Linked DNA regions of Homo sapiens. The protein of the gene in region 3 purifies or fractionates together with the protein of the main gene of each other region. This does not show direct contact. Each region holds a gene or a part of one and is shown on either strand. Other genes may lie near its edges.

Region 1 (3,571 bases), on a different chromosome or scaffold from region 3:
TTCATTCGAATTTAGATTATATCATTAGTAATAAAATTTTCACAAACAAGTTAGTAGTACTTATTTATTAACAAATACATTTTGGAGAGTTCCAACAGTTTAAGGTGTCCTTCTCTTTTAAACAACTTACAAACTATATAATTATCTTTGCACTGAGGCTATAAATTTCCATTTATATAACATATTTTTCAGATAGGGAAAGTTAATATTGAATAATCAATGAGCAAGGAGAAGCAAGCTTTAAGAACTTCCCAACTCTTAGGAATCATGAAAATAATTTTTCATGATTATTTTAGTGTCCCTGAAATTATCAAATGCATCATTTCCATTAAAACATATATGAGTATAAAGGGAAAATATGAAGTTTATTCAAAAGGAGCAAAAAAGGGAGATCAAATGTATGAAAAGTTCTTTATATCCTAAAAATGAACAACAGAAAGAACAAGTTGTAATTGGTAATACAAATCAAAAGATCACTTTCCCTACCAGTTTTGAGACTGCAAATATTTTAAAAATTAGAAATAGTTTTAATATTGTATTATTGTTCTATGTATTATATATTATAGTTTGCTTCATAGCAGATGCCCCCTCCCCCTTAATTAATCTAAAACCTTAAGGATAAATAGTTCCATGTGATTCATAATTGTTGAATGAATACAACTTTTCCTAAAGTTGTTAGGTTTCATAGATTATTCCTGCCACTTCTAGGATTTTATGAATCTATACTTGTCACAGTTTTCTGAAAATAAAGACAATAATAGTAGAGAACATATATCAAGTCCTTATTTATACATATTAAAAGGCAATCTAGAAGAACAGTTAAGAGCCACTGTCTGAGTTCAAATACTGCCGCTTCACTTACTAGCTACATGACCCTGGGCGAGTTACTTCTCAGTGTCTCCATTTACTTATAAAATGGGATAAGTACCTACCTCATAAGGATTAAATAATAATTGTTTAGCTCAGTGCCTGGAACACAGTTAATGCTACGTAAGGGTTAGTTATTATTATTACTATGTGCCATGTATGAGTTTTACTTTACACACATTACTTCATTCTCATTTAACCTATTTTTCATATGAGGATATTGAGGTTTACAATGGCTAAGCAACTTGCCTTAGTGAAAAAAAGCTAGTAAGTGGAAGGGCCAATATTGAAGCCCAGGTTCTCTGATAGCTATGCCAGTGTATCCTCAAACTAGTCTCCGTGGATATATCTGTAGAGATTCACAAGTTTTTCCTCATTATTTTTAATTTAAATCATTCTAGGGAAAATTTTCAAATGAAAAACATTTTCATAGAGTAGACTTTAATTTCTGAAATCATCAAACTGGTATATGCAAATCCCTGGCATTCACGGGAATATTCTCATAGATCTAGGATTTTTTTTTTTTTCTTACAAAGCAGTCAACTCGTAAAACTTCAAACATAACATGGAGCTTTCATTCTTCAAGAATGAGAGAATAGGCCGGCTGCTATGGCTGACACCTGTAATCTCAGCACTTTGGGAGGCGAAGGTGACAGGATCGCTTGAGCCCAGGAGTTCAAGACCAGCCTGGACAACAAAGTGAGATCCTGTCTCAACAAAAAATACAAAAAATTTGCCAGATGTGGTGATGCAGATCTATAGTCCCAGCTACTCAGGAGGCTGAGCTGTGAGGATTGCTTGAGTCCTGGGAGGTTGAGGCTGCAGTAAGCCATGATCACACCACTGCAATCCAACCTGGGTGACACAGCAAGACCCTGTCTCATATTGAAAAAAAAAAAAAAAGAATGAGAGCAACAGCTATTTTTCAAAATCCTTATTCCCCATATTCATTTTAGATACCAAGTTCGGGACCTTTTGGCTAGTCTACTTTAAGAAGTAAAAATATTTTTTAAACGACAATGACATTAAAACATGTTACTTCTTTGTAACAACTGGTCTTGATTTTAAAGAAAACAACAACACATTAAAAAAACAAACATTTAAAAGTATTCCCTTAGTAAACAGTACTAGTACTCACATTCAGCACCAGTCTCTCATCTTTACTCCAATTCTGTATCTACAAGAGCCTACAAGAATTTTTCACTTGAACAACTCAAATAATAAGCCCCAAGTAAACTCATTTTCCCTAGACCACTTTTCCCCAAACAAGATCCCTCTTCCACATCTCTAATTCCTCCAATGATATTATCATTCTCTCAGTCATCCAGGCTCATGGCCAGAATAATCTTTGACTCCTATCTGTCTCTTATTCTCTATACTCAAAACCATATGTCTTTCTTCAAATGAATTTCATTCATAGGCCCAACTCCATTCCCACTTATCCACCTCCTTCAGGTGTCATCACCCTACTCCTTCCCTCCAACCCTATCACTGTCTAAACCATCACCTGTTTATCCTTCTTAAAGGACCAATTCGATCATGCTTGTCCTCTGCTTTATAACCTCCATGAATTGCCATTACTCAACCTACAGAATAAAATCCAAATGTTGAATTTAGAACTTTTGATCATGTAAGACTGATCATTTGAGAATTTACAGTGAATTCTCCCCTTTTATAAAAGTGTGTAACCACATAATATCCTGTATGTTTCTTAGCCATTTCCTATTACTGTTATTAGTGGTGTGGAGGCTTCTACAGAAATAAGATTTCTTTTATATATCCTTACCAGATACTAAGTAGATAACCAATTACCGAGTTAGATACTACCAGTTAACAGTGCATATATCCTGAGTACCTGATATGTGATCATTTATTCAACAGATATTTGCTGAATAATGAATCTGTGCTGAAGATACTAATGTGACTTCCATCTACTAAGAGATTTCCATGTGCCAGACAACACTAGTTTAGATGCATTATCTCACTTAATACAAGTCATCCTCAGATAGTATTATCAATCTCATTTTTAGTATGAGGCAATTATATCTCTAGTATAGTCTACTTTAAAAAGTAGAGCCAAAATCAGAACTGAGTAAAAAGTTTGTACTCTTTAACACTGTATTCTACTCCTATAGAAATATTACTCTAAAGAAAGGAGCTGTCATCTATTTGGCATGGTGGACACACAAATATAATACTTTGTCCTAAATACTATGAAGGATGCAATTAATGTCTTATTTGAGCACAAAATGATGGGCCAAACTCTAGGGTAAAAAGATGGAGAGTCAGAGATATCTGGAGATGACATGTTTAAGAATGAATCACAGTTACAAAATAAAGAAACATTCCCAAAAAAGGGGATAACCTGTGCAAAGGTAGAAAAGCACAAATTTCATGACTTACTCAGAAAACAGCAAACAGTTCAGTTTTCTAGAAAGTAAGTGTGATAAGGGAGACTGGTAGAAAGGGCAAGCATAGTCAGATCATGAACAGTTTAGCCAACGAGTTTAGATTTTGGCCAATAACTAAGAGAAAGCCATTGTGTAATTTTAAGCAAGAGGGAATGATCACATTTGTGCTTTAGAAACGCTGCTCTGTACTGACAAATGGACTGGAAGAGCTACAGCCTAGAAGCAGGGACACCATTTTAGGTTACTGAAAGAGTTCAGGCAAGAGACTAACCTAGAACAGTGGCGAGGGACAG
Region 2 (3,571 bases), on a different chromosome or scaffold from region 3:
TCCTTAATGATTAGTGATATTGAGCATGTTTTCATATATTTTTTGGCCATATGTATATCTTCTTTTGAGAAATATCTGTTCATGTCCTTTGCCCATTTTTTAATGGGGTTGTCTTTTGCTTGTTGAATTGTTCCTTATAGATTCTGAATATTAGACCTTTGTCAGTTGCAGGATTTGCAAATATTTTCTTCCATTCTATAGGTTGTCTGTTTGTCCTGTTGCCAGTTTCTTTTGCTTTGTAGAAGCTCTTCAGTTTAATTGGGTCCCTCTTTCAATTTTTACAACCTAGCTTTTAAAAGCCTTATCAAGCAAAGTCGTGTTTTGTTTCCTTCTTGCTTAAATATATGGATACTTATTCTCCCTCCTAAAAAAGGACTTGCCTTTGCATACCATGATATAGAATAGGCCTAAAAGTATTTTATGAACTATAAATGTATGAACATAAATATCAATTAGGTACAATTAATCATTTTCTACTTATTTTCAAAATTATAGAAAAATATGTCGTAACTGCAAGTGTGGCCAAGAAGAGCATGATGTCCTCTTGAGCAATGAAGAGGATCGAAAAGTGGGAAAACTTTTTGAAGACACCAAGTATACCACTCTGATTGCAAAACTAAAGTCAGATGGAATTCCCATGTATAAACGCAATGTTATGATATTGACGAATCCAGTTGCTGCCAAGAAGAATGTCTCCATCAATACAGTTACCTATGAGTGGGCTCCTCCTGTCCAGAATCAAGCATTGGTAAATGATATGGAACAGAGAGTTTCTTTATTGAAGTTCCTGGAGTATTTATTTGGGGCAGTTTCTTTGATGACCTAATCAACTTCACACATCCCAGATCTGTTATTCTTCCGGGGTTCTCATTACTTTGACTTCTGATTCCTGTTCTAGTCTTTTGAATGTAAGACTAGATACTTCATAAAATTTTTCCAACTCCCTAGATATGTTTACCTTTTTGAGGGAATGGTCTAACGTTCTTAATAATTAGATGGAAATCAGATGTTTTATATCAATCTAGTAACTCTTCTAGCTTAGTCTTGAGAGGATTTATCTTAAGATGGTAAAGAAGAGAATTTTTGTCATAGTTTAGAACTGAAAAAAATATTCAACATTATCTTTGTGTTTTTTTCATTTCCTTTATTAATACTATATAAGACCAAAAAGATCACAGTTTTATATCAAGCTCCTTCCACTATTATAACAACCAAATGAAACATTTGGAAGTCTTTTAAGGTTAGTTAAATCATTAAAGTGAATTTTGCGATATCATTTTTTATGTAATAAAAATGTTCCTGGTCCTACAGACCATTCCAAACATGTCTGCCTAAAAGTTTATGTTTTCTTTCAATTGTACATTTGTTTATTTAGCTTAAGTAAACAGTAGTAACTCAGATCTTACAAACTGAAAAAATATATAATTTCATGGAGAGAAAGTGTTACTTTTTACCCAACTAAATCTATTTAGTGTACCGTTTTTGAGTTTTAACTTCTTAATATACTGTGAGGGTGAGTTGCTGCTATTGGATAGAACCCACTTCTTTCTTAAGTAACTTGCTTCTGATGTGTGTTATGAAACATCACACTGCCTAATGGCCAATCCCAGTTAACATTGGCCTCCTTGTGGTTCAGGCCAGGCAGTACATGCAGATGCTACCCAAGGAAAAGCAGCCAGTAGCAGGCTCAGAGGGGGCACAGTACCGGAAGAAGCAGCTGGCAAAGCAGCTCCCTGCACATGACCAGGACCCTTCAAAGTGCCATGAGTTGTCTCCCAGAGAGGTGAAGGAGATGGAGCAGTTTGTGAAGAAATATAAGAGCGAAGCTCTGGGAGTAGGAGATGTCAAACTTCCCTGTGAGATGGATGCCCAAGGCCCCAAACAAATGAACATTCCTGGAGGGGATAGAAGCACCCCAGCAGCAGTGGGGGCCATGGAGGACAAATCTGCTGAGCACAAAAGAACTCAATATGTAAGTAGAGTGGTCACACTGTTAGCCTGATTTGTATACTTTACAGAATTTTTTTCCCTTACTTTGAACTTTTTTGGGGACTATTCCTCTGAGTTTCCAAAAGGGAATAAGTATGGGGAATAAATAGGATTTAGATTCAGTTTAGACTTCCCACAGAGGGTCATCGTGTTTGAAACTTCTGTCTAAAGCCAAATTTTCTATGTATTTATTATCAAGGATAATTGTGGATAGTGAGTTTTATGTACAGACAGTAGTTGGTATTGGCATGCTGATCAAAGACAGCATTATTATTCTATAGTCTGTTTCTAATCATAATGTTGGTATTAATTGCTTATCTCTGCTGCCCATAAATAGGAATATATGCTTAGGTTAATTCAGTTTTGCTTGTGAGAACGTGCCTAAAATTCAAACTTAAATTTAATTTTTGTGGATATATAGTGAAGCTTTTTTTTAAGTCTCTTCTAAAGGGAGAAATTGAAGTATTTTGCTAATGACTTGATGGTAGGAGGCAATTATGACACAGATGAACAGACATAAGAACTAAACCTGCTGTAATATATTCCTCATAGCTCCAGTTAGCACACCAACCAATAAGGCTTAGTCCTGAAAAAAGAGCACTAATAAGCCCTGAGGTGATAGTTTTAGAGAATCTACTTAAAATTGACCTGAAAATTACTATTTTCCTTTTTCCATAAGTGACCTTAATTCAGGAAATAATGCCTGTTACACACAGGGTGAATGAAGTAGATTTGAATAGCCGGGAGAAAGCTGAGATTCCATTTCACAGAATTATTAATACGTTATTATCTACATCGACAAATTTGTAATTTCAGTAGAAATTATGTCTCTTCAAAGTTGTTTCTCTGAATTTCTACTGAAGTCAATGATAAGAAATGGCAGTCTTAGCTGGGCACAGTGGCTCACGCCTGTAATCCCAGCACTTTGGGAGGCTGAGGCGGGTGAATCACGAGGTCAGGAGATTGAGACCATCCTGGCTAACACGGTGAAACCCCGTCTCTACTAAAAATACAAAAAAATTAGCCGGGCGTGGTGGCAGGCGCCTGTAGTCCCAGCTACTCGGGAGGCTGAGGCAGGAGAACGGCGTGAACCCAGGAGGCGGAGCTTGCAATGAGCCGAGATAGCACCACTGGACTCCAGCCTGGGCGACAGAGTGAGACTCAGTCTCAAAAAAAAAAAAAGAAAGAAAGAAAAGAAATGGCAGTCTTCTAATGACTAGGTTGTTCTGGATGGCTTCCCTTTCAGTCCTGCTATTGCTGCAAACTGAGTATGAAAGAAGGTGACCCAGCCATCTATGCCGAAAGGGCTGGCTATGATAAACTGTGGCACCCAGCTTGTTTTGTCTGCAGCACCTGCCATGAACTCCTGGTTGACATGATTTATTTTTGGAAGAATGAGAAGCTATACTGTGGCAGACATTACTGTGACAGCGAGAAACCCCGATGTGCTGGCTGTGACGAGGTATGTTCTATGGGACCACCGGCATGCTGGTGCCCTCTTAGACCCTCATATGGTCCCTTTACCTAGAAGGCAACAAGACTTGACCAAACAGCAGTTGCTCTGTTTACATCCAAAGAAGTT
Region 3 (3,361 bases):
AGAGAAAATCCATTTTATTTGAATAGATGCAGTGACCACAGCTTCTTCCCTCAAATCAACACATTACAGTTAGATGTCTCCCATCTGAAATTGGATAGCCCACTGAAATTGAACATGCCTTCTCTTATAAATGTGTGGTGAGAATAAAAGCAACAAAGAAATGAATGTGGTGGCTCACACCTGTAATCCTAACACTTTGGAAGGTTGAGGCAGGAGGATCCTTTGTGCTCAAGAGTTTGAGACCAGCCTGAGCAACACAGTGAGACCCTGTCTCTACAAAAACTAAAAAAATTAGCTAGGGATGGTGGCACATGCCTGTAGTCCCAGCTACTTGGGAGGCTGAGGTGGGAGGATTGCTTGAGCCCAAGAAGGTCAAGGCTGCCATGAGCCATAATCACGCCACTGCACTCCAGCCTGGGTGACAGAGACCCTGTCTTAAAATAAAATAAAAAAAAAAGGAAAAGGAAAGACATACATACCCTCAGTTCTTCGAAAAACAGTCAACGTCCAAAAAGTTTATTTTTTGAGTCACCTTTAATAGAGAAATTTCCCACTGGAAACAGATCCACCTAAGTGATTATCTAGTATCAGCTGTATCAAGGCAAAAGGTAAAGGTTATAAGATGTAAATATTAGACCAAAATAGCCTTTTTTAACAAACACAATAATGCTGTACGTCTGTAACAAAACAAAATTTGAAAAATTGAGGTAATGTACACAGCGATGCACACACCCCCACACCACACCGTGATTCCTGAGTTTTGATTTGGTTGAATTCACCTTGTAGTTCCCTTTCCTGAGAAAATACAGGTTCAACACATCTAGTCCACGATGTACGTACAAGGGGAAGGGGTGAACAGGAAATAGACTCCCTTATTCTGCTCACATGAGCTGGAACCTGTACTAGCTGCATATTTCATAGACCCCAGAGGCTCACCTCAATTGTACTCCTATGATAAAATGTCTCTAGCATTTGTCATGAGAGAAACTGGCTAGAAATAGTTTGTTCATTGCGTCCAGCAAGACACGCATTGCTGTTGATATCTTTGTGGCTAAGATGGAGAATGTGACTGGATAATAGTTATCCAGGTGGATTACTAGCTATTGAAACAGTCTGAGATAGTTGCATGATGATTAACGTTAAACTGGGAGTAATTTCAAGTCATTTGGCTAAAAATGAAAAAAAAGTCCCATAAAAAGGTATCAAATGTACAGATAATAGGGCTGGAATTATTAAGTATGATGATGTTATTAACATCTAAAATTATTTTGGCCGGGCAAGGTGGGTCACGCCTGTAATCTCAGCACTTTGGGATGCCAAGATGGGTGGATCACCTGAGTTCAGGAGTTCAAGACCAGCTTGGCCAACATGGCGAAACCCGTCTCTACTAAAGAATACAAAAATTAGCCAGGTGTTGTGGCACATGCCTGTACTCCCAGCTACTCAGGAGGCTGAGGCAGAAGAATCATTTGAACCCCGGAGGTGGAGGTTGCAGTGAGCCGACATTGTGCCGCTTCATTCCAGCCTGGGCAACAGAGTGAAACTCTTGTCTCAAAAGTAAAAAAATAATAATGTTTAAAAATATTTCAATGTGGAGACAAGCTCAAAATGAAATTAGACACATTCCATTACCCAGGTAAAAGAAGGGGAAGCCTGACTTGATAGTAGTATTCAGGAAAAAAGAGTTGGCAGTTTTATTTGGCCAAATTCCAATATCAGCTCATGGTACAGCACACCGGGGGAGGGGGACGGGAGGCGAGAACTAAGGCTTTTTAAGAATGTGTTGATGGAAGTATGTGCCTAGATCAAAAGAATAATCCCCCCGGACTCCAGTGTAAGATCAATTACTGTTGGAATATTGTGTTCCTTTCTAGATATCACATTTTAAGCAGACTTTGGCCAAGTAGTACAGTGTTTGCAGGAGCAGTAACAAGATGGTGATAACTTTGAAAATACTTCTCAAAAGAAAAATAAAAAAGAATTAGGGAAGTTCAGTCTGGAGATAATTCAGAAATACAGATGATAATTGTTTTCAAATTCTTGAAGGAAATGGGAGAGAGAATAGGCTAATTCTGTATTGCTTCAGAAACCAAATGGAAACAATTAAATTCCATTAGAGAAACGGTTGGAAAATATGAGGAGGATTTAGTTCAGTACGAGGAAGCTGTTTCTAATACTTTTTGTTGGTTAAAAATACATTCCGCTGCTGTGGAAAGCCTGTAGCTGCCAGGAGTGTTACAGAGGGCATTCCTCCCTTGAGTTGACATTTGTGCCAAACCGGCTTTTAGGGCTTCTCCAGCTTTTAAGATGCGATAATGATAAGATGATCATCGGGAAAACATCCCTCAGATGAAACGTTCACAGGCTGGCTCTGAAAACTGGCATTCAGATGATTGCGGCTCCCCCATACTGTAGGAATATTGTTTATGGCTTAAGGTTGCCTCGCTCCTCATCTGTAATCAGTGAAAGTTTATCCAGAGGTTAATTACCGGTTTTCTGGTGGGTATCTGGGAACTGAGGATGGGAGATTAACTGTTGTATATGACCATAGTAAAGCAAAAGACTGTTAGAGAATGAGTAAACGTTCGTTTTCCTCCCTACAGAATTTACAGTTACTCTCTGTCCATTCCACTCACTACTGTCTTCATCACACACACAGAGGCAAACGTCTGATTCAGATAGCCAGGTGTGCCATGCATGCACTCCACCATATTGTGATCTCTTCGAGGCTTGTTTCTGTCCCCTGTCCTCCACAGTCCTGGATTGTTAATGAATAGTTCATACATGTTTGTTAAATAAATATACCTTCTTTAAAATTATCTTTTGTTATAAAGATGCCTTTTTCTATGGTAACTGCAAAATACCTAATTTGTAACTAAACCTAAAACTATGTGGATAAGTTATTTCTACACCTGCGGGGGGCAGATTTCTACATGAGAGTCCTTTCTTAGTGTACTGAGAGTTTCTGCATGAGGTAAATGAAAGAAACATGTTTTTTGTAAAAAAAAAAAAAAAGAAAAGAAAAAAATTGGCAATGGAGAACGTTTCTAAAGCTTCTCAGCTTCTCCCTATGATTATGTATTGAAACCTCGGAATTTGTTCATCTGGTTTTCTTGGGGGGTCTATGAAAAGGGCAGAGCAAGCAGATGTCCCATGATTGCCCTGAAATTATATTAGATATGTTCGTGTGCATGGATACCTGCATTTTTCTAGGGATAGAGTCCTTAGCTTTAATCAGAAGAAATTAAGAACTACTGTCTTTAAAAATGTGCTTTCAAACATTTGTTTTTTGAATTCATTTCAAAGACTCTAACGTGCCCATTATGTGTCAGGCGCTGTGCTTGGCAATGAGGATACAAAA
Region 4 (3,571 bases), on a different chromosome or scaffold from region 3:
GAGCCAAGTGCTGGGATTTGGCAACTTAATTAAGGGTCACATTATGTGCCTACTGAAGTGAAGGACTACTGAGTATACAGCATCCCCCATAAAACATTGCTAAAAACATCTCATCTGAATCTAAAGAAGGTCTTACACCTAACTTCCAGTTTATAGGAAATATACAGAAATAACACCGTAAAAAAATACGCAGGTTCAGAATATTGGTGACTCTGTACAACTGCTGGCCTATAACATGGTTCAAAGCCTGGTAAGAAATGAGTCTCGGCAGGGTGCAGTGGCTCACACCTGTATTCCCTGCACTCTGGGAGGCCAAGGCAGAAGGATCACTTAGCTCAGCCTGGAAAACACAGACAGAGACCCTGTCTCTACCAAAAAATAAAAAAATAGCCAGGCACAGTGGCACATGCCTGTGGTCCCAGCTACTTGGGAGGCTGAGGCTGGAGGATCGCTTCAACCTCAGAGGTCAAGGCTGCGGTGAGCTGTGATCGTGCCACTGCACTCCAGGCAACAGATCAAGATTCTCTCTCTCAAAAAAAAAAAAGAAAGAAAGAAAAAGAAAAAGAAAAAGAAATGCCAAGTCCACGGCAGACATGGATGCTGACTAGACCCTGGTTTGAAACAAAGATACTTTGGGGATAACTCGGGAAATAAAAATATAGACAGGGTATTAGATAACTTAACCTAAGGAAATATTATTGTCTTAGGTGTGAAAATTCTCACTAATTATGTCAAGAACGTCCTTATCTTCAGGAGATGCATGCTTAAGTATTTAGGCTGTTATGTCATCATATCTGCAACTTTTAAACAGCTCAGCCTGACACACATCTATACAGACTAAACATGACACAATGTTCACTGCTAGTAGATTTGGAAATGTTTTACTATTGTCAAGTTTCTTCTGTATGTCTGAAAAATTTAATGATAAAAGCTGAGAGTGGGGCAGCCAGCCCTGGCCTCAGGCAGGAGAACAGACCACGACAGGGCTCTGCTGCTCAGGGGCAGCGACCCACGCTGCTGGTCTCTTAGCCTCAGCCCTTCTCTGAGATGAAGGAGTCACCCAAAACCCACACTGTCAAATGATTTCTCTAAGGCATGTAAACACTTCTCTGAATCAGGTAAGGACTGGGATATAGGAAGCAACTGCAACACAACTGGCCTTACTTTCAGCCATCGGACTGTCAGTATCCAATTATTTTCAAGGAGTTCAGGCAAAAGCAGAATGAATGTAAAACTTACAAGAAAGGGGAGAAGAGGTGATGCTTACGCTCATGTTAGAGTCACATTCTCAGGCATGACTGTCCACAGTAGTTACCAGGACAGTAGTTACGGTGGCAAAAACTGGGCCAACAGCACTGCTTGAGGCCTGAAACCAGGCCTATAATCCCATCACTGCTCATGTAAACTGCAGCGACCGTGAATGAAACTGCTTCTTACTAATCCAAGAGCTTTTTGAACAAACGCTAAGGGTTCCAACTACTCTCCAGAAACCTCCCTGTACCACTGACTAGATTCAGCCTGGAGCAATAAAAAAGGCTTCCCCAAATGAACAACAGAAGAGAAACTACACTTCAAAGGATAGGTAAGTGCAGTCTTATACTAAGAGATGACATCTCTCTTATCTCTGGCAGAAAATAAAATTTTAATAGTCAAACTGTACAACAAACCAGAAAATACTCCTGGTCTAATTCATAATGCAATGTCCTTGAAGTGGAATTCTAAAGAAAAGACTTATGCCCTCCTTTAGCTGCCTTGGATAGAAGCAGATAATAAAACCAGAGCAGACATATGGTTTTCAAAGATTTAAAGAGAGAGTGAAATGAAACTGCAAAAGACAGAGCCAAGTAAGACATGGTCCTCTGTGCCAGTTGTTCCCAAGAAGTCCAAAGACATTACTTAACCCGTCTTAACTACTTCAGATTTTCTCTCTGGAGAATTCACCTAAAACTGTAACTTATTCAATGTGAAAAGTGACAGGTTTTTTTTTTGGTTTTTTTTTTTTTTTGAGATGGAGTCTCGCTCTGTTGCCCAGGCTGGAGTGCAGTGGTGCGATCTTGGCTCACTGCAAGCTCCGCCTCCCAGGTTCACGCCATTCTCCTGCCTCAGCCTCCCGAGTAGCTGGGACTACAGGCGCCCGCCACCACGAAAAGTGACAGTATTTAAGAAACTTCCTAGGCACAGAGAAAACACTGTGAATGGTAAATATGAATTTGTCCTTTTGCAAATGTAGGGAGGCAAGTTTCCTTCCACGTGGACACATGTGAAATCTACAACTGTCATCCACCTATGTCACCAGTGTTAGATCTCAGACAGAGCCTCGTCACACTGAAGACTACGTAACAGGGGAAGTTCTACTCCTTGAAGGTCTCGGGACCCTTCTACAGCTAACAGCCCTCCTTCCCATGAGCTCCTCTCAGTCCCTTGGTTACCTGACGTTTCCTCCAGCCTTCTGTATCCTCATCCGCTCTTCATACTGAGTTGGATTATGCTCTTTGCTGAGGCTTAAGGCTGCATGTTTTTGACTCTCCTCATTATAACGACACAAGATTGCCTGGGAAGATGGAGATTGTAATAGTCATGAAATTCAGTGGGCGCAGCATCTAAAGGTACCAGTTGAAAAAAACAGTTAACAATGGAGTTTGAAGAAAACAGTTAACAATGGAGTTTCACATTCAGCCTCCTGCTGATAAACGTAAGTTCAGAGAATCAAGCAGCAAAGAAGTGTCAAAGACACAACAGTTAGGGAGAGAGTCGCCCCTGGTTTTGATATCAACTCTGGTACAAACTCTGCTGAATAACTACAGACAAGTGCTCACTCTGGCTGTTGTCACATTTGTGACATGAAAGGAAGCACTCAACAAGTATCAAGGTCCCTTTTGGCCTGGAGTCTAGAAGGCCAGAGACATGTCCATGAGCCTATGGAAGGCAAAGAGGAGGGCAAGCGTTGTGCATGCTGGCCGAGTGCCAGGTAGGCCGTCCACACCAGTGCCTCCAGGTGTTCTCGCCCCTGCCAGGTTCATTGTGTCTGTTTTACAGGAAGACACTGAGGCACGAAGAATAAGTAACTCAATAAAGTCACAGAGCAGAGCCAGGATTCAAATTTGGGTCTGACTCCTGTCTTTGTTTTTTTGCCAATTTTCCTCTTGCTATTTCTGAAGTCATGTGGTCTAAACACATGTGGGCTAAGGCCAGTCTACTAAAGGGCCACCAGAATGTAAACTCCACCAGGCAGGGGCTGTCATCTGTTATAGTCTCTGCCATACCCCTAGCACTTAGTATTTGATGAATCATCCCCCCAGAAGCATCGTGGGGAGGGGTCTAAAGATGCTGCTTAAGTGTGGACAGTCACTTGATTCCTGTGACTGCCTAGGGAGCAAGGAGGCCGGGTGAAAAAGCGGCAACGGAACGGAACACATGGTCCTGATGCAGAGGAGGCAGGGTCTGCATCCAGCTTTCCGCAGCAGCACCCTCTAGGCTTTACAGCATCCCCACGACTGTCACCAGGGGGAACAACACCCTGGGCTTTCTCCCTCAGCCAGGGACCGGGCTCGGGTGATGAATGGCACCTCAT

The links.
Region 1: the proteins of NLN (region 3) and LEMD3 fractionate together in Homo sapiens (co-fractionation; one large-scale study listed by BioGRID). This does not show direct contact.
Region 2: the proteins of NLN (region 3) and TES fractionate together in Homo sapiens (co-fractionation; one large-scale study listed by BioGRID). This does not show direct contact.
Region 4: the proteins of NLN (region 3) and ILKAP fractionate together in Homo sapiens (co-fractionation; one large-scale study listed by BioGRID). This does not show direct contact.

What each region holds. Positions count from the first base shown.
Region 1 is NC_000012.12:65,176,040-65,179,610, reverse strand, and holds part of LEMD3 (inner nuclear membrane protein Man1), read right to left. Parts: intron 1-3,571.
Region 2 is NC_000007.14:116,248,525-116,252,095, forward strand, and holds part of TES (testin), read left to right. Parts: intron 1-495; coding exon 496-748; intron 749-1,636; coding exon 1,637-1,972; intron 1,973-3,235; coding exon 3,236-3,451; intron 3,452-3,571. UniProt on the Homo sapiens protein: Scaffold protein that may play a role in cell adhesion, cell spreading and in the reorganization of the actin cytoskeleton. Plays a role in the regulation of cell proliferation. May act as a tumor suppressor. Inhibits tumor cell growth.
Region 3 is NC_000005.10:65,826,465-65,829,825, forward strand, and holds the end of NLN (neurolysin, mitochondrial), read left to right. Parts: 3' UTR 1-2,819; downstream 2,820-3,361. UniProt on the Homo sapiens protein: Hydrolyzes oligopeptides such as neurotensin, bradykinin and dynorphin A. Acts as a regulator of cannabinoid signaling pathway by mediating degradation of hemopressin, an antagonist peptide of the cannabinoid receptor CNR1.
Region 4 is NC_000002.12:238,179,636-238,183,206, forward strand, and holds part of ILKAP (integrin-linked kinase-associated serine/threonine phosphatase 2C), read right to left. Parts: intron 2,552-3,571; coding exon 2,430-2,551; intron 1-2,429. UniProt on the Homo sapiens protein: Protein phosphatase that may play a role in regulation of cell cycle progression via dephosphorylation of its substrates whose appropriate phosphorylation states might be crucial for cell proliferation.